Regions from separate parts of the Homo sapiens genome. Here region 1 is linked to region 2. Evidence: fine-mapped expression QTL. A gene starts in region 2. The other region holds a variant in brackets. All regions are shown on one strand. Distances are between the middles of the regions.

Region 1 (12,383 bases), 38 kb before region 2:
AATGAATGAAAAAACAGCTTCTGTAGACACTAACTAGTTTGGGGATTATTTGTACAGGAATCTTCTTCAGGCCAGGCAAATATTTTTGTTTCTTTGTTTCAATGTCCTTATATTTTACTGGAATTTCATTTTTGCTATGTATTTCACGTGAGGTTTTGAGTTTGTTTCTCCACACTTTTAAAGACTCATTTTTAATCCTTAAGAAGTAAAATAGCCAAACTGAAATAATTTTTTAAATTGTGCCAGGAGGATCAGGAAGCCACAGAGAAAACCCTTGGTAGTGGTTAGTTCTCCCTGGGCTCAGTCCTCAGAAGGTAGGGCTGGAAGGGACCTTTTGGGGGTCGCAGATTTCCACCCACTTACTCCAGGCAGCCCAGGTGTCTCTTGTCTTTGGCCTGCTGTCATTTTCAGGACAGGCTTTTCAGGAGTTGGACTAATCTTTTGTGCCAGTTTGCTTCTCTTAAGAGTGGGGTGGTGGGCCGGGCGCGGTGGCTCACGCCTGTAATCCCAGCACTTTGGGAGGCCGAGGCGGGCGGATCACGAGGTCAGGAGATCGAGACCATCCTGGCTAACACGGTGAAACCCCGTCTCTACTAAAAATACAAAAAATTAGCCGGGCGAGGTGGCGGGCACCTGTAGTCCCAGCTACTCGGGAGGCTGAGGCAGGAGAATGGCGTGAACCCCAGGGGGCGGAGCCTGCAGTGAGCCGAGATTGCGCCACTGCACTCCAGCCTGGGCGACAGCGAGACTCCGTCTCAAAAAAAAAATAAAAATAAAAAATAAAAAAAATAAAAAAAAAGAGTGGGGTGGTGTAGGGGACAGGCCTAAGGTTTTAGTTCTGGCATCCACTCATGGCTGGTCTCTGTGCCTCAGTTTCCAAAAATATGAGATGGGGACAGTGGTTCCTCTCCTGCCTCCCTTGCAGGTGAACATGGAATACTGAATGTGCCTGTTCTTTGAAAAGCTAAGTGTCTATTTCTAACATTTAATGTATTAATTTAGTTTACACATAGAAATTTAATACTCTGCATATGTGTTCATTTAGAAATATTTCTAATTTGCCATACTCGTTTGGTGAAACCATTTATTCTTTGATATCACTGTTTCTGATGCCTCTATACACTCTAATTCCTCAACTCAGTTTTCCAGAGCATCCTGTATTCTCATGCACCGTATTTTCATACATCTAGGTTGCTTGGGAGAGATACATCTTTTGAAGCCATCCGTGATGCTGTCACTGAAAACTCTGTCCCAGGCCCCAAATACCCATCCATCTTTGAGGATCCTTACACTATAACCACTAACTCTACTGAGGTTTTTCTTTCATAGATCTTTAAAATAATTGTTCACAGCAGTTTAACTTGCATTTGTAAGAACATTGCCCCAGGAAAAATGATTTAATCCATTAAGCAGCTTTGTGTGTGTGCATGAAGCCAATTCCATTGAGTGACTGCTACAAGTGTCTAAAACTAGCACTACTATGTTTATATCACAGGCAAATGTGCCCCTTCCTCAAAGAACCTGTTGTAACCTGTTGTCACAAAATAAAACAACTGAGATGGTGCCACATAATAAAAATTTTGTAAGGACTCAATTATTAGGTGATTCTTCTTATGAGAAATACATTTAGGAAAAACTGCTTTCTATTATAAGGTGATTCTTCTTATGAGAAATACATTCAGGAAAATTTGCTTTCTATTCAAGTCTGTATTATATAAGACTAGAATTCCTGCCTCTTTCAGGTCCTCAGATACACTGAAGTCTCCTTCTGACATTTGGACCAAGCTGTCTCAATCCTTGGAGCTCCTGGGCTGCTTCCAAATGCAGTAGAAAACAGTGGCAGGATTTAAGGTCTCTGCCCCGATCCCACCCTGCCCATTCCTCCTTCTATCTGAGGAACTTAGGGACTCCACTGGGCCCTCTATTATTTTCCTGAGGAAGAGTTCTGCCTGATTTCTCTGTGGTCTGTGATGACCAACAGGAGATGTGCTCAGAACCCAGAGGCCCTGGCCAGGCTCCTTACCCAAGGGAACCCCTGCAACGTGTGGGTGCGGCTGCTTGGTGATGGACCAGTAACATCTCTGAGAGTGATGATGGATGGTGGTCAGCTGCTAGGAGAGCCCTGGCTTGGGTGGTCTGGTCATTCTCTGTGGCGCTCATGGAGAAAAACTAATACTGTGGAAAGAGACAGCGAGACTGAGCTCAGGTCAATGAAAGGAAATGTGGTCAGCGTAAGACTCTCTAAGGATAGCTGCCGTGTGTTGTTCCCTATCACTAAGAAGGTTCATGAACAGTCTAGGCTACAACTCTCAGGGCTCTTGAAGAAGAGATTCAAGCATTGCATGTGGACTTCTATGAAGTGACCTTAAGGTCCATTCCAGCCAGATGTAACATTTTGTTTAACCATTTCCAGCCTGGCTGAACATTCTGCTATCTAGTGGCAGTCTTCAGCCGCAGTGTGACGGAGGCCAAAAGCAGTTTCTCTTTGTACCTTATTTTCTGAAGAAATCCTATAACCCTGGATGACCCAAATACCCATCCCACTTACGCCAGCTCCCAATACCCCCATACTTCCTACCAAGCTTTATGCCGAACCAATTTTTTCATCTGGGTTTAGATTTCCCACATCCCTAACCCATTCTGGCAAAGTCAAGATTTACCCCTGCTGAGTAACATGACTTCTGGACTGAGCGGCAAACTCATCAGGATAAACCAGACTCCGGAAATTCAATTCATCCCAGCAAACCTTTTTGAAGTCTACTGCACAATTATAAATCTAAGTTTCAGTGCCCATTTTAAAGATGGAAGGCTCAGAGAGATGAAGAGCCACAGTCTCCCAGCAGTTAGGCAGCAGGACCGCGGCTTCATGGCAAGCCCCCTGACTCCCCAGCAGGACTTCTCACTGAGAAAGAAGGTGCTTCCATTAAAGCCTCCATTAAAGATATTCATGTTTTAACCCCCAGAATCTGTGCTATGCTAGGTTACATGGCAAAGGGGAGTCAAGGTTGCTGAAGGAACAAAGTATGGTAATCAGCTGACCCTAAAGAGATGATTCCAGATTACCTAGGTGGGCCCAACACAGCCACAAGGTTCCTTTCCAGCAGAGGAGGGGGCAGAGAGGAGTCAGAGTGAGAGAGAGATTGTGCTGCTGGCTTTCATGATGGTAGAAGGAGCCATGAGCTGAGGAATGCAGGTAGCCTCAAAAGCTGGAAAAAGCAGGGTAACAGGTTCTCTCCAGAGTCCAGAAGGGACACAGCCCTGCTGACACCTTGTTTTACCCCAGTGAGACCTATTTTGGACTTCTGACCTTCAGACATGTAAAATAACAAATTTACACTGCTTTAAGCTGCTAAATTTGTGGTAATTTGTTACACAGAAGTAGGAAACTACAGTCATCCTTCAGTGTCCATAGAGGATTGGTTCTGGGACCTCCTGAGGATATCACAATCCCAGATGCTCAATCCTTAATACAAAGTGGTGTACTATTTGCATAGAACCTGCAAACATCCTTCCGTATACTTTAAATCATCTCTAGATTACTGTAATACCTGATACAATGCAAATGCTATGTCAGTAGTCATTATACTGAATTGTTTCTTTTTAATTTGTGTCATGTTTTATTGCTGTATTGTTCATTTTTATTTTTCTGAATGTTTTCCATTTGCCATTGGTTTGAACTCTTGGATGCCAACAGTCATCTCTGTGGCTCTCTCCTTTACTCATTCCAGTCTCTGCTCAAAGTCATCTTAACAGAGAGAAGCTGCCAGCAGCACAGATGAAGTGCTGCCCTGCACTTGCACAGTCTTTCCACCGTTTTCCCTGCTGTCCTTCATGGCGCTGACCAGGTCCTGCAGTATCAGGCGTCCCCTCATTTCCTGGCATGTGTTTGTCTTCCCACACTAGAACGCAGCCCTGAGGGGTGGCCTTGAGTCCTTCCTTCCCTCTGTGTCCAAGCCCAGAGCCTGGCCCCGCACAGTGTAATGTGCCCTGAAGAGTGAACACATGAATGTGTTGGTCACCGCCCCATTGTGCAGCGTAGTTCTCCATGTCGGTCGTGGGAAACTGAGGCTTGGAGGGGTTACGTGACCCTTTCCCCACGCCACGAAGACAAGGAAGCAGGAGGAGAAAATACACTAACTTTGGACAGCCTCAATCTGGATTCGAACTCCACCTCTGCCCCTTACCAACTGTGCACACACAGGAGGGGGGTTACTAACCCCTTGAAGTCAGCTTCTTCCTGCAACACAGACAGATGCCACTCTGCCACCCTCACAGAATGTTAAAGTGGGCCAAACCCTGCAAAATACATAGCCCAGCCCTATCAAGTCCTATTCAAAGGTGACACTGTATTTATCAGGGACCATGAGTGACCTTCTGCTCAAAGGGGTATGGCATTGCCATCAAGAAATCAGAACTCTGCTTCTCACCTGTTAAGGTTTAGGGCCTGCCAGATATCCGACCTGCACTTAACTCTCTATTCTTATCACAGAAACTGTGGAGTGGATTTGATTAGTTCTATTTTACAGACCAGACAACTGGGGCTCCAAGAGGAGAAGTAACTTACCTGCCCCACATGCCACAGTCAAGACTGGCAGCAATGGTGGGGCCCAGTACACTCTTTCCCACCCCCAACACTTGAAGACCTCAAAAGTAGGTTGATGCCATGTCTTTACTACTGTGAATAGTGTTGCAATGAACATATGTGTGCATGTGTCTTTACAATAGAATGATTAATATTCCTTTGGGTAGGCCAGGTGCAGTGGCTCACGCCTGTAATCCCAGCACTTTGGGAGGCCAAGGCAGGTGGATCACAAGGTCGGGAGATCAAGACCATCCTGGCTAACACAGTGAAACCCCATCTCTATTAAAAATAAAAATAAAAAATTAGCCAGGCGCGGTGGCAGGCACCTGTAGTCCCAGCTACCCGGGAGGCTGAGGCAGGAGAATGGCGTGAACCCGGAAGGCAGAGCTTGCCGTGAGCCGAGATCGCACCACTGCACTCCAGCCTGGGCGATAGAGCGAGACTCTGGCTCCAAAAAAACAAAAATCAAAAAACAAAACAAAACAAACAAACAAACAAACAAATATATATATATATATTCCTTTGGGTATATACCCAGTAATGGGATTGCTGGGTTGAATGGCTTTCTGTCTTTAGGTCTTTGAGGAATTGCCATACTGCCTTCCACAATGGCTAAACTAACTTAAACTCACACCAGCAGTGTATAAGCATTCCTTTTTCTCTGAAATCTCATCAGCATGTCATTTTTTGACGTTTTAATAGCAGCCATTCTGGAATCAACCTAAATATCCGTCAATGATAGACTGAATAAAGAAAATGTGGTACATATACACCACGGAATACTATGGAGCCATAAAAAAAATGAGATCATGTCCTTTTCAGGGACATGGATGGAGCTGGAGGCCATTATCCTCAGCAAACTAACACAGGAACAGAAAAACAAATACTGCATGTTCTCACTTATAAGTGAGAGCTAAATGATTGAGAATACATGGACACACAGAGGCGAACAGCATACACTGCGGTCTTTCAGAGGGTGGAGGTGGGGAGGAGGGAGAGAATCAGGAAAAATAACTAATGGGTACTAGGCTTAATACCTGCTTGATGAAATAATCTGTACAACAAACCCCCATGACACAAGTTTACCTATGTAACAAACTTGTGCTTGTACCCCTGAACTTAAAATGAAAGTTTAAAAAAAGAAAGTAAACCGGATTCTTCCTCCATATGTATCTCAGTTTCAGCATCTGTGAAGCCCACTCTGAGCTGTCCCAGGAGTATAAATCCCTTTATGCATTAGGCACCTCTCCTCTGGAGAGCTTAGCAAGGGGGTAATTTGACATTTATTTTTGTAATTCCTTGATCAATGTCTGTCTCCCCCACCAGGCTACAAACTCCATGGAGCTGCAGAACCATTTGGTGTGGGTTCCCCACTGGTTTCCCTGGTGCCTAGCACAGAGTCTGGCAACGAGTAAGGGCTAAAATGTATTTTCAGAATGCACCAACGGCTGCAAAGATGGACTCTAAATGCCAATGGCAAACTTCTCAAACTCTAGCTTCCAACAAGGTGGGCCAGATTTTCTCCTAGTTCCCCATACAAGCTACCCCGGGGAGCCGCATGAGCTCCTACCCGGGCCTTGGTCTTCAACTGACCTATGAGGTCAAGGCATTCTCTCTCCCAGAAGAAATATCCAGGGCAGAAAAACCACTCCCACAGTGCTCAAAGCATTTCCCTTTGAACATTTTCCTGCTTCTTATTTTATTCATAACCAGGCAACCTGAAGCTTTAACAGGATACATGGTTTTTTCTCTCTTCTAGATTTAGAGAAAAAAATGTTTGAGATATTTTTAACTGACAACACCCAGCCCCTTCTCCCTATGCAACACCCTCTCCCCGAATCTGTGCTCAGACACCCTATCTCAGCCCCAGAGACAGGCTCCTGAGGCCGAAGCAGCTCAGGCCATAAATCCTCATCTGCGGCCGGTAATCCACATGGAGAGAAATGACAAATGCTCTATTTAGCCCTATTTCCAAGGAAATTAGAATTACAAATTGGAGCTATTGCTAAGGCCCCGCTTGAGCATAACCTTTGGAAATAAAGGTAGGGAGGGGGTCGGGGAGGACTGGCATTTGGCTAGCCAATTTCTTTGTCAGGTTAGCTTTTGTAGAAATCCACCCCCACCTATGGGAATCACACCCCTCCCCATCCCTTCCACCCCCAGCACTACCAATTAGAGCCGGTGGCCCAGGAGTATTCGCTCTGGCTTTGTTCACCGCTAAAGGCACCACCAAACCAGGTAAGCAATCACTTCCAGGGAAAGTACAGAAAATTG[CTTCT/C]TTAATTGGGTAGTTTCTAGGGCTAAGAATAATTTAATTGAAAACCAGCATTAATGAGAATCAAAAGGTTTTAAAAAGGGGCCTGGATGGAGATGTCCACGTGTCAGAGACAAGTGACAGCCAGAGTTCTCAAAAGATACATGGAGAAAAGGGCTTTGTTAAAAATCCATCATCCCCCACTACCCACACTCCTACCTCACTCCTCCAAACACACCCCTCCCCAGCACAGATACACAAGGCTGATTTGGATGCTTATTTCGAAAAGCTTCATCTCATCTCCAAACCACTGAGAACTACTGGGGTAGATGTTTTTTGTTGCATTTTGTTTCATTTTCTTAATTTTGCAGCCAGTAGTGAAATATAAGGCAAACAGTGTAGATTTCTACGGGGTGAGTTCCAGGAGCCCTGAGTTCAGGTCCCGTTCCAGTACCCACTATGACCCTGGTCAGGTCACCCAGCCCTCTGACACTCTTTACCCCCCCATTTGTCTTATTTACTCAACAACTACTTTCACACAGCTAAGGGCCAAGCATTGTTCTCAGCACTTTATAAATAATAAGTGATTTAATCCTCTTACCAAGCCCCTTGGACAAGCACAGTTCATTGCCCCCTTTTCTTCTTATCAGAAACCCAAGAGGTACCGAGAGGTTCAGAAACTTGCCCACAGTGACACAACTGGCAAGTTATGGAGCTGGGAGTTGAACCCAGCAGTCTGGTTCCAGGGTCCACCTCTGGCAATACACAGAAAGGATGCTACCACTCCATCAACCCCTATTTCCCAAGGGGTGTGAGTGCTCAGAGGACGTGGGTGGGTTGCTGAGCCCATTTATCTCATGTGATTTAGCTCATGCCCCTCTAATCCTTTTGCACCTGTCTCCTGTGTGCTCCCTCCTGCCCTCCTCACCCAGCCACCAACTGGTTCCTGGCATTAAGCTCTGTTTCTGCACTTTGAGTTCTGATTCTGTGCCTTCGTGCTACAACTGGGGTCATCTGTCCTGCCCCGTGTGAAGGGTCTACACTGAATATCGTTGAATCAAGGATTTTATTCCAAATAATGAGGCACAAACTCATAATAAAAAGACAGCATGGTGTGGAGGACAGGAGCTGGTGCTTTGCAGCCCAGCAGCTGGGACTGAACTTAGGAAAATCATGTAACTTTTCTGTGCCTCCACTTCCTTCTTGTAAAAATAAAGGAATAAATAATCAAGCCTACTTCATAGAGTTGTGCAAACTGAGCATGTTAAAATAAGCATAGCTCTACAGAATGCTACGGGGAATGTGGTATGAGACAGATGCACAGTGTGACACAGCTGACCACAGGTCAGTGCTGCTCCGCCAACTGAGCTGCAGGATGGCAGATTGCAGAGAGCGTGGGATTTGGTGGCATTGGACTTTGACTGAATCAGGCATGGGACTCTGTCACATCAATCAGCATCTCCAAGCCTGTTCCTTTTATATAAAATAAAGAGAATAATAATTCCTGCTCACTTCACCTGATTATGAGGATTCGACAAAGCAGAGTGCTTTGTAAATTACAAAGGAACCTAGAAACATTGAGCTTTATTCTTAGAACAAAATTAGTTGGTGAGAAAGTATAAGGAGACTTGGATTTCAGGGTAGTAATATGGGCTAAAGCCTTCAGGGTGTTTCCAGGTAACATGCTCTGCACCCGATCAATATCACCTTGTAATTCTCACAATTCTATGCCTGTTTTATAGACACAAAAACCTAAGGCTCAGAAAGGCAAAAGGACCAACTGGTGTCATGAAAAGGGGTGGACTGACATTTGGAGCCAAGTCCCAAATGCTCTTAATTGTGGCATTACATTGTCACATTCCTGTCACTGTCACTTCATGGGGAAGCAAAGAGCTGGCCTTTCAGAAAGGAAGAGGGTCAGGCCCCAGATCAGGAGAAGGAGAGGCAGCTGTGAGCAAAGGTGAGGAGGAGGAAAGGCAAGGCAGGTCTCCATGGCCCAGGGCAGCACAGCCACGTGGCTTTCCCGCCTCTCTCCTCCAGACTCTGCGTTCACTGTGGGCAGGGACACATTAGCTTGCATTTATTTCCCCCATGCACCTGCCCCATCCCCAACATAAATATTTTTAAGGGAAATCAAGTGAATGAATGAATGATATTACTCAACTGAGGCACTAAGATCAAGTTAAGAAGAAATAAAAAAACGACTCTAATAAGCAGTAAAGCCATGAAGACATCTTCCCCAATCCTCCAAATCAAATTAATTTTCCCTCCTTTGGGCACCCTTAGTTCTTCTGTGATTAGCCCCACCCACCCACCCCAAAAAAACACACAAAAAATCATTATTATTAATATCATTTACTGAGCTCTTACTATGTGTCAGGCATTTCCCATACAGAATCCTATTCAAGTCTCACAACTACCCCATTTCACAGATGAGAAAATCAAGACTCACCAAGGTTACAGAACTGGGCTAGGTCATACGGTTAGTAAACCCTTGGTTTCATCTCAAGTCTCTGTTTCTGAGGCTAGAACTCAGCTGTTTCTCTACATCCCTATCTGTCTGCCTATTAAACACTTTATAATTTTCCAAGCAAGAAGTCCATCTTACATGCCCATATGCCCGGGATACCTTGCACAATGCTGGGCACAGAGTAGTGTGCTCCATGGGCATTTGCAGAGCTGAACTGTATTTAATCATCTGTGTCTATTCAAAGGCTGAGGTCTTTATCAGATGGGAGCCCAGAAGGGATAAGCTGGGTTACTGTTTGCCTCTCCAAGCAGAAAAAGAACCAGATGACCTCCTGGTACATGTTTATTGCTAACGGCCCTGCAGTGGCTTCCACAACATGCCTCAGCCTGGATCCACCAACCTTAAGCTACTCTAAAGACAATGCCTTCGTGGTGGCCAACAAGATTAGCACCCAATTAATAACTAATTTTGGAAAGACTGTGCAAAACAGCTTGGCAAACTGCATCATGCCACACATTAGCTTGACCTGAGAGCACCCTGCCTGGAAATGAACAGATCAAAGGGGCTGAAAACATGAGCTTGGGAGACCCGGACTCTGCTCTCCTTGGCTGCTGGGAATCTGTGTGTCCTTAAGCAAACTCCCTCCTTCCCTGGGTTCAGGTTCTTCGTCCTTTAAGCTGAAAAGCAGAGCTAGACTGGGAAGACCTCTTCCAGGTCCAAAATTCTAGAGCTCCGGGATACAATTAAAGCCAAGCAAGGCAACCAGGATGAGTCTATGTGTCAGCAAAAATTCCCAGGCAATGCTAATTACTGGCACTTAACCAACTCATAGTTAACTCCAGGTAATTTCCAGAGGATTTATTACAACTCTGAATGCTATTTTGTGAGGGAAGCAATGTATATTTAATATTGACAGTACAGGAGGCAAGTTCCCTTTCTCCAAGCCCATAAATTATCCCAGGCGACGGGAGGACAAAACTACCAAAGGCTTGTTACAAGCAGGCTGCCTCCCAAACAGAAATCAGGCTTAATAGAAAACAATAAAAAAGATGTAGGAGGAGACGAATTTAAAGCCAGAAGCACGTGAGTGGTGTGTGAGACAGCATGTATGTGTGTATGTGAATGGCCTCAGAAAATCAAACGATAGAAGTCAGAGAGGAATGTCCAATTCATCTCATTACCATTAGGGTAGCTTCCTGTTCAATCCCACAACAAACATTTCCTGAGCCCCTTCTGGGAACCCAGGGTGAGTCACATCAGACTTGGTCCCCAAATAAGCTATGCATGTGGCTCTTTCCCTCTCCCCCTGGGACTCTGAGTCCATCTTAGGATGCTCTGTTTTCATATCCCCAAAATGAGAATCCAAAGACTTACATCGTGGCGTGTTCTGCAGGCTTCATAAGGTAATGAATGCAAGAACAAGATTTTTAACAAGTGGTGGTAACACAGCTAGAAATAACCCTAAAGCAGGGCAGAATGGGCAGACAAGGGTCAAGATAAAGGTACCAGAGAAAACCACAGGCAGACAGTAAAGGTTTCTAGGACACAGATGTGGAGAAGACACTGCAAGAAAGAAGAAAAGGAAGAAGGTGGGGAAGAGGTGGTGGAGGGGTACCTGTGCGTGGGCCACACAGTGATTGGCTGTGTGTGAGGAAAGAGACTGAAAAAAAACAGGAGAAAGAAAAGTAATGGAGATTAAAGAAAAAGAAGGAGCAGAGTAGCGGGTGAGCTGGGTTATGGGAGAGAGAGAAGAAGAAAAGAGGACGTAAACCATAAGGGAGATAAGATAAAACAGAAAATCAATAGAAGTGCCTAAAGTTGATTCATCAAGAGACAGCGCCACGAGCGCATGATTTAGAGATGCAGGAGAACCACCAGGAGTTCTAAGGACAGAAAGAACGAGACTGCCTCTGGGGAAGGGGCTGTGGCTTTTCATTTTTAACCTGCCTTCCTATATGACTTTGGGCTTGAATATATGTATGTATTCCTCTGATAGAAATAAAAATAATTGAAAGCATTTTTAAGAGATGGAAACAGAAGTTACCACGGCGTAAGTACTACCTGCTGGGCATCACCCCCAGCGACTTATAAATACCATCTCATATTTGTCATCCCAACCACACTACAGCGTAACCAAATCCCCTTTTCATTTTCCTTTAGCTGCACTTACTTTGTGGGGGCTGTTGTGAGGATTGAAAGAGCACAGGTAAGCAGCTACAAATGTGCCTGGAAAATGCAAATGCTCAATAAACGTTCCTTCCTATTGTCAAAGAATTTGACAAGCACTCCTCCTTTTTCCTGGGAGCTATTCTGCCCCCTGTTTTGTAGCAGCTGTCATGCCATCTTATGATCCTTTCACCCAAAGACACAGGTGGGGAATAAGGGTTCTGCAGTAGGCACCTGAACCCAGCTAAGTCAGTGGGTCCCTAACTTAGGAAGGCAATTACTTTTCTTCACTGTAAAGCCACACCCCTCACTCAGGCCTTCTTGATCTCCTTTGGGGTCCATGAGCAAGCAAGATCCCTGGGACGCCTCAGCTGGTTTAAGATGGGTTTCTGCTACCAGCCTCTGAAAGTGTCAAGGGAGTTCAAAAGCAAACGTCATGTAGGCGTAGGTCTCTCCAGGGCTTTCCCAGAACAAGAAGCTGAGCTCTAAGGGGGAAGAAGGAGAAATATGAAAAAAAAAAAAAAAAAAAAAGAGGAAGAAGAAGAAAACAAAAGAAAAAGTAAAAAGGAGGAGGAGGAAGGATGTGCTTGCAGTGAATTCTGCGTTTTGATTGTTGCTATTTTATAGCTAGGAAAAACTAAGCAAAAGCAATCTCTGGTCACAGCTAGAAAACTATTATTTGCGTTTCTATCTTTCCAACCCACGATCTGTGCCATTTGGATTTCATGGTCTAAAAATATCTCCCAAACTTCCAAGTATGTTGGCATGGGTTGATGGACTTAAATTTTTAATCCATTTGTAAATGTTTTCACACAGCTCTTTTTTCCCTCTCAAATTCTATTTCTTGCTGAATCACTTCCATCATTTAGTTTGGCATTTATTTGAGCAGGAAGGAAATCATCTTGAACACA
Region 2 (12,383 bases):
TTACAGGAGAATAAGCAGCTCCCACTCTCAAGTAGCTCTCAGCTCAACAGGGCAGACAAGCAGAGATCAATCAAATGCGAGGTACAAAATTCTATGCCTGGGGAAGCTGGGCCAAGGTGAAGGGGAGTCACCAAGTGAAAGCAGGGGATGGGCATTTGATATGGTTTGTCTCTGTGTCCCCATCCAAAACTCATCTCAAATTGTAATCCCCACATGTTTCCAGAGTGGCCTGGTGGTAGGTGACTGAATCATGGGGGTGGATTTCCCCCTTGCTCTTGTCGTGATAGAATTCTCATAAGATCCAGTTGTTTGATAAGTGTGTGACTCTTCCCCTTCACTCTTGCGCTCTCTCCTGGCACCACGTAAGACATTCCTGCTTCCCCTTCTGCCACGATTGTAGGTTTCCTGAGACTTCCCCAGCCATGCAGAACTGTGAGTCAACTAAACCTCTTTCCTTTATAAATTACCCAGTCTCAGGTATTTCTTTATAGCAGTGTGAAAATGGACTAATACAGGAAATTGGTGCCTGGAGTTTGGGGCACTCCCATAAAGATACTTGCAAGTATGGAAGAGACTTTGGAACTGGGTAATGGGCAGAGGTTGGGACAGTCTAGAGGGCTCAGAAGAAGATCAGAAATTGTGGGAAGGTTTGGAACTTCCCAGTGACTTACTGAATGGTTTTGACCAAAATGCTGACAGTGATATGGACAATGAAGTCCAGGCTGAGGTGGTCTCAGATGGAGATGAGGAACTTATTGGGAACTGGGGTAAAGGACACTTATGGTATGCTCTGTCAGAGACTGGTAGCATTTTGCACCTGCCCTAAAGATCTGTGGAACTTTGAACTTCAGAGGATGATTTAGGGTATCTGGTGGAAGAAATTTCTAAGCAGCAAAGCATTCAAGAGTTAACCTGGCTTATTCTGAAAACATTCAGTTATGTGCGTTCACAAAGGGATGGTCTGAAATTGGAACTGATATTGGTAAGGAAAGCAGAGCATAAGGATTTAGAAAACTTGTAGCCTGACCATGTGGTAGAAAAGAAAAACCCATTTTCTGCGGAGGAATTCAAGCCAGCTGCAGAAATATGCATAAGTAATGAGGAGTTGAATGTTAATAGCCAAGACAACAGGGAAAATGTCTCCAGGGCACATCAGAGAATTTTGTGGCAGCCCCTCCAATCACAGGCCCAGAGGCCTAGGGGGGAAAAATGGTTTCCTGGGCCAGGCCCAGGGCCCCACTGCTCTGTGAAGCTGCTGGACTTGGTGCCCTGTGTCCCAGCCGCTCCAGTTCCAGCCATGGCTAAAAGGGAGCAAGGTACAGCTCAGCCCATTGCTTCAGAGTGTGCAAGCACTGAGCCTTGGTGGCTTCTGTGTGGTGTTGGGCCTGTGGGTGCACAGAAGACAAGAGTTAGGCTTTGGGAACCTCCACCTAGATTTCAGAGGAGGTATGGAAACACCTGGATGTCCAGGCAGGAGTCTGCTGCAGGAGTGAAGCTCTCATAGAGAACCTCTGTGAGGGCAGTGCAAGAGGAAATGTGAGGTTGGAACCCCCACACAGAATCCCCAATGGGACACTGCCTAGTTGGACTGTGAGAAGAGGGCCACCGTCCTCCAGACCCCAGAATGGTAGATCCACAGACAGCTTGCACTGTGTGCCTGGAAAAGCCACAGGTACTCAATGCCAGCCCATGGAAGCAGCCACAGGAGTTGAACCCTGTAGAGTCACAAGGGTGGAGCTGCCCAAGGCCATGGAAGCCCAAGCCTTGCATTAGGGTGGCCTGGATGTGAGACATGGAATCAAAGGACATTATTTTGGAGCTTTTTTAATGCATGCCCTGCTGGGTTACAGACTTGCATGGGGCCTGTGGCCCATTTGTTTTGGCCAATTTCTCCCGTTTGCAATGGAAACATTTACCCAATGCCTATACTCCCATTGTATCTTGGAAGTAACAAACTTTTTTTTTATTTTACAGGTTCATTGGCAGGAGCAACTTGCTTGTCTCAGATGAGACTTTGGACTTAGACTTTTGAGTTAATGCTGGAATGAGTTAAGACCTTAGGGTGCTGTTGGGAAGGCATGATTGGTTTTGAAATATGAAAAGGACATGAGATTTGGGAGGAAGCAGGGGCAGAATGATATGTTTTCGCTCTGTGTCCCCACCCAACTCTCGTCTCAAATTATAATACCCACATATTGTGGGAGTCGCCTGGTGGGAGGTGACTGAATCATGTGGGCATATTTTCCCCTTGCTCTTCTCCTGATAGAAGTTTCAGGAGATCTGGTTGTTTGATAAGTGTGTGGCTCTTCCCCTTTGTTCTCTTTTTCCTGCCACCATGTAAGATGTGCCTGGCTTCCTCTTCCCCTTTGCCTTCTTCCATGATTGTAAGTTTCCTGAGACCACCCCTTCCCACCTCCGCCAGCCACGCAGAACTGTGAAACAATTAAACTTCTTTCCTTTATATATTACCCAGTCTCAGGTATTTCTTTATAGCACTGTGAAAACAGACTAATACAGCATTTGAGGCAAAAGAAACAAGGTAAGGGTTTGATTGATTTCCATATTTCCTGTATTCTACCTTTAGGAAGGAGAAAAAAAATAATCTCATCATGGACCTGGTTCATTTTAATTTAAAAAAAAAAAAAAAGCATCCACTAGATTGTAGGCCTATGGTAAGCCCAATTTCCTGGGCCCATTGTGCCATTAGCCACAGCCCAGAACAAGATAATGGATGCTTGAAAACATAAATTTCAATGCAAAATCCTGAATCATCAAGGAAAGGTTCAATTATGTTCACTTGACTGGACTGTCTCCTAAGCTGCAGGGAGAATGTACTATGCATGTACTAAGTAAGTATGCTTCAATATTAGGAGCTCAATGGGAATTCAACACAGGTTTTCCTGTGTAGCTCCCAATTTATCAGAATCCGCAATCCCACCACCACCCCAGTTCATCCTCAATTTTCCTAACACTGTGGCTTCCTGAGTTCTGACCAGCCCCCAACTTGATTCTAAACTCTCATTTCTAGCAATTTGCCATCTGAGAGCTAGCAAGGGGAGGCCAAGGAATTACTCATGGCCCTGCATTAACAATGGGGAAAGGGGCACCCAGTGACGCTCAGCAAAATACCCAGGGTCCCACAATTGTTGGAAGAGCATCAGAACTGGAATCTTGGCTCAGAAACAGAGTGAACCCACTGCATTCAAATGCGAGCTCCAGGAACCTTAGCTGTGTGATCGCGGACAAGTGATTTTCTCTCTTGAGGTTTTCATATCTTTATATAACGGAGATAATAATTTCCATCTAATAGTACTGTGTGAGGATTAAATAAAATTAGTACATTTGCATATTTGCATATATATGCATTTGCATATATAGTTCCTAGCTAGGTAACTGACTTTCTTCTCACAAAGTCTTAAATTTTCCTGGATCCTTTTTGGGAAACAGGCTCCAGGTTTTGGCATTATCAAATCTGCTTCCAGGTGATGCAATAATTCTAGAAAAAAATAAAATTGAGGCTCAGTCAGTAACAGCTTTAGCTATTCCCTTCCCCAGACTGGACAAGGCAGGGCTGGAGGTGCTGGCTGGGAAAGGTGGGAAGAGAAGAAAGAGGGAGCCCACATGCTTCCATAGGACCCCCAGGTTTTTCAGTCAGTACGTACTGAACGCGATGTGCATGTGAAAGGACACGTGAATCATTGTATGACTGTGTGCACTCAACGAACTTCTTGTGCCTTTTTTAACTATCACATATTTCAGTATTCACTTCAATTTAACTAAACATATTGCTAGAGACAGAGAGAGGAATGTATTTTAATGCTTTTTTTTCGGCCACCTAAAAAGAGCAAATGAAAGAGCAACAATTGTTAAGCCGTCTCTCCAACCAGACCCCGACCAACACCTGCAAATAGACACACACACACACACATACACACGCACACTCATACAGACACCAACATCCACGTTTCTGGGAAAATGCCCCACTCCCACCCCACCCTTCCTGCTGGTTCCTTAGTTTCCGGGAAGGCACCCTCTCCGGGCTTGGTAACCTCCTTGAAGAAACCTGTTGCTAAGTCTGAGGTCCTGTGTGGACGCCCCCACCTGGTGGCCGAACCTAGAAAAACGTCTCTAACCAAGAAAAACTGGCAGGTAGTGTAACTAACTCCAAGGCTCCTGAGCCCTTCCGACCACATCAGTCATGGGTGAATTGGAGGAGAATAGAGAGGAAAATCCACTGCTAAACGCGTGGGGGAGAGAGGGGGGAGGGGGGGTTGCCAAGGTCATAGGCAATTCCCTGCCAAAACCCTGGTACAGTACAGCTTCCTAGAAGCAGCCATCAGGATGACTAAACCAGAGCCAGAAGGCAGAGCTTGATGGCTGGACGTGCCCTGCCAGCTCCGAGATGGGTGCTGACAGCACAGATTTCCAATCTTGAATGAGGAGCACCCCCACCATCCTCTCCCCCCTCCCAAATACGGGTGGATTTTCCATCCCCAGTGGCAGGTGCAGAGGGAGTTCCTTCTTCCTTCTGGCCATGCATTTACATCGGACTAGCAAGGAGATTCTTTCTAGGAGAACAGTGCCTGGGTGCAAACCTCCAGGCCAAGCCCCTCACATTCCCGGTGCCCTAGGCCAGCCAAAGCAGGAGAAGCAGCAGCGACTGAGGCTGAGGGAATATCGGATCCCAAATCAAGGAGATGTTTCAGCCAAAAGAGTCCCCGGCCCCCTCACCTCCTGGCTCTGTGAAGCCCCAGCCCCTCAGTCTAGGCTTAGACACACACGTTCCCATTCACTTCCCTAAAAGGAATCCTAGAACATGCATTTTGGCCAGTCCCAGCTCCCAGTCAGAGCAGCACCAGGTTCTTCTCTGTACCAGTACCCAGCGATCAGAAGGGTGGCACAAGCAAGCGACACACACACACACACACACACACACACGCTCCCCACTATGGGTGGTGCGCACCCCTCCCATCCCCAACTAAACTCAGTGGCGATCCCAACAGAAGGGATCCACCCGAAACAGAAACACAGAGCTCACGGGAGGACCCGCTTTATCCTCTTCAACCCTCACATTAATTGGAAAAACCCACATAATTATTTTAAGCTTCCAAACCAACACCCCTAGAAGATGTCATAAATGTGCACCCGCGCGCGCACACATCCGCCCAAATCAGCAGGGGAACCACGCTTCGTTTTTTAAGCCCCTAGTGTGGAACACCCGGAGAGCGGCAACACACACACACACACACACACACACACACACACACACACACACCCAGGGAAACGCGTGCTGAGGACGGGCTGGTCTCCCCTTCAGCGGGAAAGCATCCATGGGTCTTAAAGCCCCAGAGACTTCTCAGCTCCAGCCCCGACCCCAAGTCCCCAAGCGCGCCGCCGCCGAGGGCGCCCCGAGCGGCCGGGTACTCACACCAACGCGTGGTAAAGCAGCGCCCAGCCCCGCGGTCTCTCCAGGGCGTCGTAGATCAAAGTTTGGATGCGCCGGTACTTGGCGTTGTTTCTCTTGACTGGGCGGCTCAGCGGGGTCTTGGCCAGGAGCCCGATGCCCTGCGGGGTCCTCCGCTGCCCCTCGTCGCGGCCGCCGCCCTCCAGCAGCAGGGTCCCGTCTTTGTCGGCTCCGGCCCCGAGCGCCAAGGTGACTTGCTCCACGTCGCCGGGCGCCAGCCCCACTTTCCGCTCCTCGTCGCCGGCCGCCGCCGCGTCCCCTCCGGCTGGGTTAGCCGCCCCGCCGCCTCCGCCGCCCCCGTCGCCGCCGCCGCCAGCCGCCCCCGCCGCCCTGCGCGCCTTGAGCCCCATCTGCCTCGCCCCCGCCGGCCGCTTCGCCTTCTCCGCTGCTGCTCTGGGAAGAAGGGGCGCTCGGGGTGCGTGAACGAGGCGGCGGCGGCGGCTGCAAGCCCGGGAACTCCAATGCCATGATCCGCGCGCCCCTCCCCACCCCCCCCCAAAAGCAGGCAAAGGCGGGCCCCCTGGGGGGCAGGGGAGGCCAGGCAGGGGGTCAGGGGGTCACATCCCGCGCGGGTCAGCCGCAGGACCCCGAGGGTCGCGGGCCGGGGGCTGCGGAGAAGCTGGGAGGGCGCGCGAGGCTGGCGCGGAGGCGCTAGGGCGCGCGGCGGCGGGAGCCTGGAACCGGCGCTCCGGGGCGGCGGCGGCGGCGGCGGCACCCAGGCCGGCGAGCCCAAGACAGCATCGCAGTTTATTTACAAGCCCGGTGCCAGCCGCCCTCCCGCCCGCCAGCCACACGCGCCGCCGCCGCCGCCTCCTCCCTCCTCCGCGCTCCCACCCGCGCCCCTCCCCGCCCGTTCCAGCCTCAGCCTGTCAGCAGCAGCAGCAGCGAGCGCGCCGCGGGCCGAGAGCACGCCGCGTCCCTCCCTCCCTCCTTCCCCGGGGTGGGGCCCCATTGTCCCGCCCCGTCGCGGCGGGAGGCCCGGGCGGCGGCGCCCCGCCTCTTCCCGCCGACCCCCACCGCTGATTGTCTGGGGACCCAGGATCGCCTGGGCTACCGCCGCCCCCGTTGCAACCAGGCAGTGCGCCAGGCGGCTGCAGAGCCCGGCTCCTGGAGCTCCCGTGGGCGTTGGGGCTTCCCCTGGATGGGGCGTGACGGCGGGCAGTTGGGGGAAGAAGAGGAAGGGAGGAGGGACTGGGGGGTTGTCGCCCACCAAACATTGGCTCTGTGGTTGCAGCTTTGTGAATTTCCCTCACCCCCTACCCCTGCTCCTCGGCTTCAGAGGTAAAAGCCAAGTTGTCGGGTTGGTCAAGGCCGGGCGCACCGCGAACGCACCTGCTCTGTGGTAGCGAAGCTCGTGACTCCCTCTTCCCTCTTCCCTCTTCCCTCTTCCCTCTAGTTCGTGGTTCATGGTGGATGCCGCGGCCCTCTCCTCCCCCAATCTTTGAATAGCACCTTCACCTGTCTGGGTGGGCAAAGGACTGAAGAAATGCAGTCAGAATCTTTGATTCCTGCTTTGCTCCCGACTTGCACCCAAGCCAGTCATTCCCTCTCTGGTCCAAATTTCAATTCAATCAACCAATCTGTAACCCCTCGTGAGCTTCCCTGGCAAAGGGTAGTGATCTCTGTCCTGAAGATATGAGGTCTCTGCACTCCTAAGACCTCCGTCCTAGCCGGTGGAAGACAATGAAAAGACAAATTTTAACAGTAGAATTTCCGATATTGGTAAATAGTATGTGGTAACAAATTAGAGTGCTGCGCTATAGTGACTGGGGGAGTCACTCTAAACCGGCTGGTCGTGGAAGGCCTTATTGTGGAGGTGATGCTTCGAGGTGAGACCCTAATGACAAGCTGGGAGCAACTATGTAAATGTCCAGAGAGCCCTCCAAACAGCAGAACAGCGGGTGCGGAGGGGAAGGGTGGCTTGAGCTTAATGAGAGTAGGCCACAGGCAAAGGCTAGATCTTGTAAGACACTGACAAAGGACAGGAGCATCCTGCACTTCTTCCATGCCCACCGCCATCGGGGAAGCCTCCATTCCTGCTGCCCCATGGCATCTGTGGCCTCCTTTCCTTCCCACTCTCTCACCTCATGTCTGTCAGCTGGGGTGAGAGACATGGGGTGAGGGGAGACCCTGTGAACAAGGCCGAGGATCTATCCCTAGTGTATAAGAAAAGAGGAATCAGACCTGCAAGAACACCAGCTCTGGATTTGCCTGGAGAAGTTGGCCAAGGAGAGCATAGGAGACAGGGAAGGGAAGAAGGAAGGGAAGGGAGTAGGAATGTATGGGCTGGGGCAGGGGAAGGGTCAGAGAACCACCACCCTATAGAATGACTATCAAAGGGGAGAACCTCAAAAGAGGTCTCCAAATCAAGAAGGGAGGAGTTTCCAGAGGAAGTTAAACTGTAAGACTGAAATCATTAAAACAGTGTGGGATCGGTACAAAAATAAACTCTCAGTGCAACAGAATTCTTTGTCCAGAAACAGACTCTAGCATGGGAACTTAATATTAAACGGGAAGAGTTCATGACAAGAACCCCAGGGGAAAAGGCTGTTCACTGGTTGATGGGTTTTGTGAGGAATTATAGGAAATAGCATATGGAAACGTGGCAGTGCCCAGTAGGACCCCTGTACATCCGTGAATAGATAAATGCTCAGCAGTGAGTTGGAGTAAGTAACCAGTCCAGCAGGCTCTGGAAAGGAGAAAAAGCCCAAGGAAAGGGAATTGCTTGGATCAGAATATCTCCAAATGGGAGCTGGGCACTGCAAAGCCTCCTCCTGCCCATGTGTTAGCCCTGCCATGCCCAACACACCAAACTCACGTGTATTCTTCCTGTCCTACTCCCATCCCAACTAACCAGGAAACAATCTTGCCCTTTATCTCTGAGCACCTTTTCCAAAGTCGCTGTTCTCCCTCAGTCTCTTCCTGTTTTGTTCATTCATTACATTTATCACTGCCAAAAATGATCGCATTTACATTCTGTTTACTTGTTTACTGTTATCTTACTAAACAAGAGCAGGGACTAAGCATCCTAGTTTTGAATCCTGGAAGTGTGTCTGTCATATCACAGGCTCTCAATCTGTGTTGGCAGCATGAATAAATGATGAATAAGCGAATGAAGAGTGTAAAGCTCTCAGCACAATGCCTGGCACACAAGCATTCCATGTATGTTTGTGGGTGAGATTTTTGTTTGGTTTCGTTTTACCATTGTGAAAGTCTTCATACTTAGGAAGTCTTGCTGCTCCTTTATGCTCCTTGCAACTTAAGAAACATGATAAAAACATTTTGACAGTATTTAAAATAAAAAGGCTCACTAGATAAACATAAAAAGAAGACGAGTCAAGGAATGTGGAAAGAAGATGTGAGAATTTATTATTGTGCAATTAATCAAAAGTTCAGATTCCCAGAATGACAGTTTGGATCCTCAGATACATGAAAAGACTTCTATTTTGATGGGAGCTTCAGACTGTCAAGTATTACAATTTAAGATAAGGTGCAGGGGCTATTTGCATGCCTCCCATAAAAGATGAGGTTAAGTCAATAACAAATTCATAACTGAGCCAATTAAACCCAATGATAGGGAAACTGCCAGGTAGTTGAGTCTAGTAAATGGAGTTGCTTTGATGGTTTTATAATCCAATGGCAAGCAGTGTTTAGGCTTCTAATAGGGGCTTTGGAAATGTCATCAAAAGCAGGGTGTGCACTGAGTGTCATTGGAGGAACTGTGTAATCACAGCGCTCCACAGCACAGGTTTCAGCTAAAGAAAATCAAACATCCTATATCCCACTGGAAGGAAACTTCTCAGAGGCCTAAAGTCCCTAAGAGCCTCAGGTTCCAGCTGAACATGGCACCAAAGCAAAGAGTTAGCGACACACTATCAACAAGGACAACAATGAGGCATTCCTCTCCTGGCTTTGAGCCCCAGCTCAAAGTGTAACATTGAAAACCCACCCACCTGCTTCCCCTCCTCCATGCCTTAGCTTTCATTTTTGCTTTTCTCTTTAGCTGGTCTTCATCTCAATGTATAGGCGAGATGTTCAGGTAAACTCTCTCTCCCTTGCAGGTGAGGCACTTCCTGGGAATGAGTAAAAAGAGAGAGACAAAGGGCTTTCTCTGAGCCTACATTTCTGCCTCTGTAAATCCAGGGTTGTAAGCATCTCATGATGAGGTGATATTCCAGTGATGGTTATTATGACTGTCATTGAATGAGTAGGACAGTCTCAGGTTCACAGGCATATGCAAATGGTGGTCCTGCCTGCCCCTCTCACTCTGTTCCCTAAACACATTAAATAATTGCTTTAGGCCAATTTTAAATTTACTTTTATTATTTGTTACACAAGAAATGCAAAGTAGTTGTTAGGAAATTATGAAATGTAAATCAGCCAGAAGGCAACAGTAATCATCTTGTTACCCAGAAACACCCTCTGTGAATATTCTGATCATGACTACTGCCAACAGGACTGAAGCATGCCTGACCTGCAAGCAATGGAGATGCTCAGCCCCCAGTGGGGCACCTTCCCTAGGGGACCAGTCAGCCACTTGGTGGCAAGTTGATTACACTGGACCTTCCAAACATGGGCGGGGGCGGACATATGCCATTACTGGAATAGACACGTATCCTGGGTACAGAATTGCCTCTCCAGTCCTCAATGATTCTGCCAACAACACCATCCATGCATTTAGGAATGCCTCATTCACCGTCAAAGAATTCCACATGAAACTACTTCTGATGAAATCATTTGTCCCCTAAATGCTTACTCTGGACCTGGGTATAAATCTACCTCTCAGAGGAGCCAGTGAGACAGATCTTTGTAGCCAAAAAGAGCACTCTTTGCTTGTTTGGAGGAGACACGACAAGCTCTAATTCTGGGTCTAGGAACAACCCGGGCCAAAAGGAAATATGTTTGGGAACAATGGATCCCATTACTACCCTATATGCGTTTTTTATTCTTGAAAACCCAATCTCAGCAAATCCTCAAATTTACTGCCCCCTCTTCTCTTCCTCCAGGTCTTCTTTTTGTCTTTCCCTTTCCTAGACTTCATATCACTGTACACTAGGACAGAGGAACTCTTGTTCCCTTACAGGTGAGAAGCCTTCCTGGGAAGGAACGAGAAGAAGCTAAGGAACACCCTTGTACATGTCACTCAGCAGAGGAGGGCAGAATAGAGTTCAGCATTTAGATCGTCCTGGCTCTGTGACTTTGCACTTAGTGACCTGAAAAAAGTTGCCAGACTTATTTCTAGCCTGCTTCCTCAGCTGTTCAATGGGACAATGTTTCTTATCCTCCCTGCCTTAGACTTGGTCTGAGTATCATTCCTCCCAGGATCCACGTTAAGGTAGGGCTTTGCAGCCTGTGATGTACTGTGCACATTGACTACATTACTGAAAGGCATCTGACACAGCATCGTGGAAGGCACTCAAGTCAGGCATGATGGGGAATGAATGAGCTCCAAGCCAAACGGCGCTCACCTTCTCTCCAGATGGGAATGATTAAGGGGCTTAACTTAGATTGTTCTCAGTTGGAAAAGTGTTTCTTTTCCTGCCTCACATTTGCAATTTTTACATTAACCTTCAAATTAATTTTGCATGTTTCTTAATGTCACTTTTGTCTTTTTCTTTTAAATAATTATGTTGGGTAAAATATCCAATTTATCTACTTAACGAATTCATTCATTCATCCTTCCAGTGAGCATTCACCAATTGCCTGTTTTATGTGTTGCTCTCCATCAATGAAAAACAGAAGAAAAAAAATTAATTCTATATTTAGTTCCAAAGATGAGCTAATAAAATGCAAAACAATTTACTCATCTTTCTACGGTCATTGCTGTCAATGACCTGGCTCGTGATGGATGCTTATTATCATAATAACATTTATCGTGTGCTTCCTCTACACTTGGCACTGGGCTGACTGCTATATATAGATTATCTCATTTAATCCTCACAACAAAGTTATGAAATAGGCATTATGGCTATTGCTTTTCATATCAACCATGATGAAAATTATACTTAGGTTAAATACTGCACCCAAGTTTACATGATTAAGAAATGACAGCCCCAGGATTCAAGCTCAGGTGATCTAACTTTGGAACCTATACATTTAACCACTACAATGTATTATTTCCTGAGAACGCTATTCCAGGTGGCAGGTTCAGTGTAGGCAAAGGCTTGGAGGCAAGACAGAGAGTGGAGTTTCCAGGGAAAGTGGTTGTGATGGTTGGAGGCAAGCGTGGATGGAGCAGAGGCCACATGGGGAAGGCTTTCATATATATACCAGGCTTATGGACTTGGGGGTCATGAGTTACTTTAAGCGTAAACTGACCTAATCCCAGGTGGTTCCACAAAGGGCTTTCTGACAACTCTGTGGAGGAGAGGTTGGAAGTGAGAAAAATCAATTCAATCAGAGCAAGTACAAGGCAGAGCCCAGCTGAGAGGTGTTGAGGCAGATCTTGGAGAGGAGGGGCTGGCTGCAAGAGGTATTTAGAAAAGAATATTGCCAAGAATTGCTACCTAAAAAGACAGGGCTGGGTCATGGGTCACTTTGCATCTTAGAGGCAGAAACAACCTCCCCACAATGTCGCAGGCTCTTGCCATCCTGACTGTGGTCTCCCTGCTAGGCTGAGCATCCTCTTCTGGCTCCGGTAATTGGCTCCCTGGGCAGTCTGTTCCTTTCTCTTCACCAAATGACACTTCTTCTCTTTGGGTCCTGATTGTTAAAACACCCAGTTTGCCCATGTCATTTACATATCCCAATTATCCATTGCCATTTTCCCACTAATGAGCCCATGTGCCTGCGTTTAAGAGCGTCTGACCCAGAGTCCACTTGCTCAAGGGGGCTGAATGCAGCAGGCACAGACGCTATTCATAGTGCCTTCAGACAAAAAGGGCTGGGGCCATTTTTCTTACCTCCCTCTATTAGGGCT

What was found.
Region 1: its variant is fine-mapped to the expression of KCNQ3 in cerebellum (GTEx, PIP above 0.99).

Annotation. Positions count from the first base shown.
Region 1 is chr8:132,436,521-132,448,903 of GRCh38, forward strand. The region is part of intron 1 of KCNQ3 (potassium voltage-gated channel subfamily Q member 3); the gene reads right to left. Among named protein-coding and RNA genes, the nearest start is that of KCNQ3, 38 kb to the right of the region's middle. The variant CTTCT/C (reference allele first, on the strand shown) is at 6,857.
Region 2 is chr8:132,474,719-132,487,101 of GRCh38, forward strand. KCNQ3 (potassium voltage-gated channel subfamily Q member 3) reads right to left here and starts at 6,377. Exons shown (of 15, transcript NM_004519.4): 1 at 5,429-6,377. The coding sequence starts at 5,814.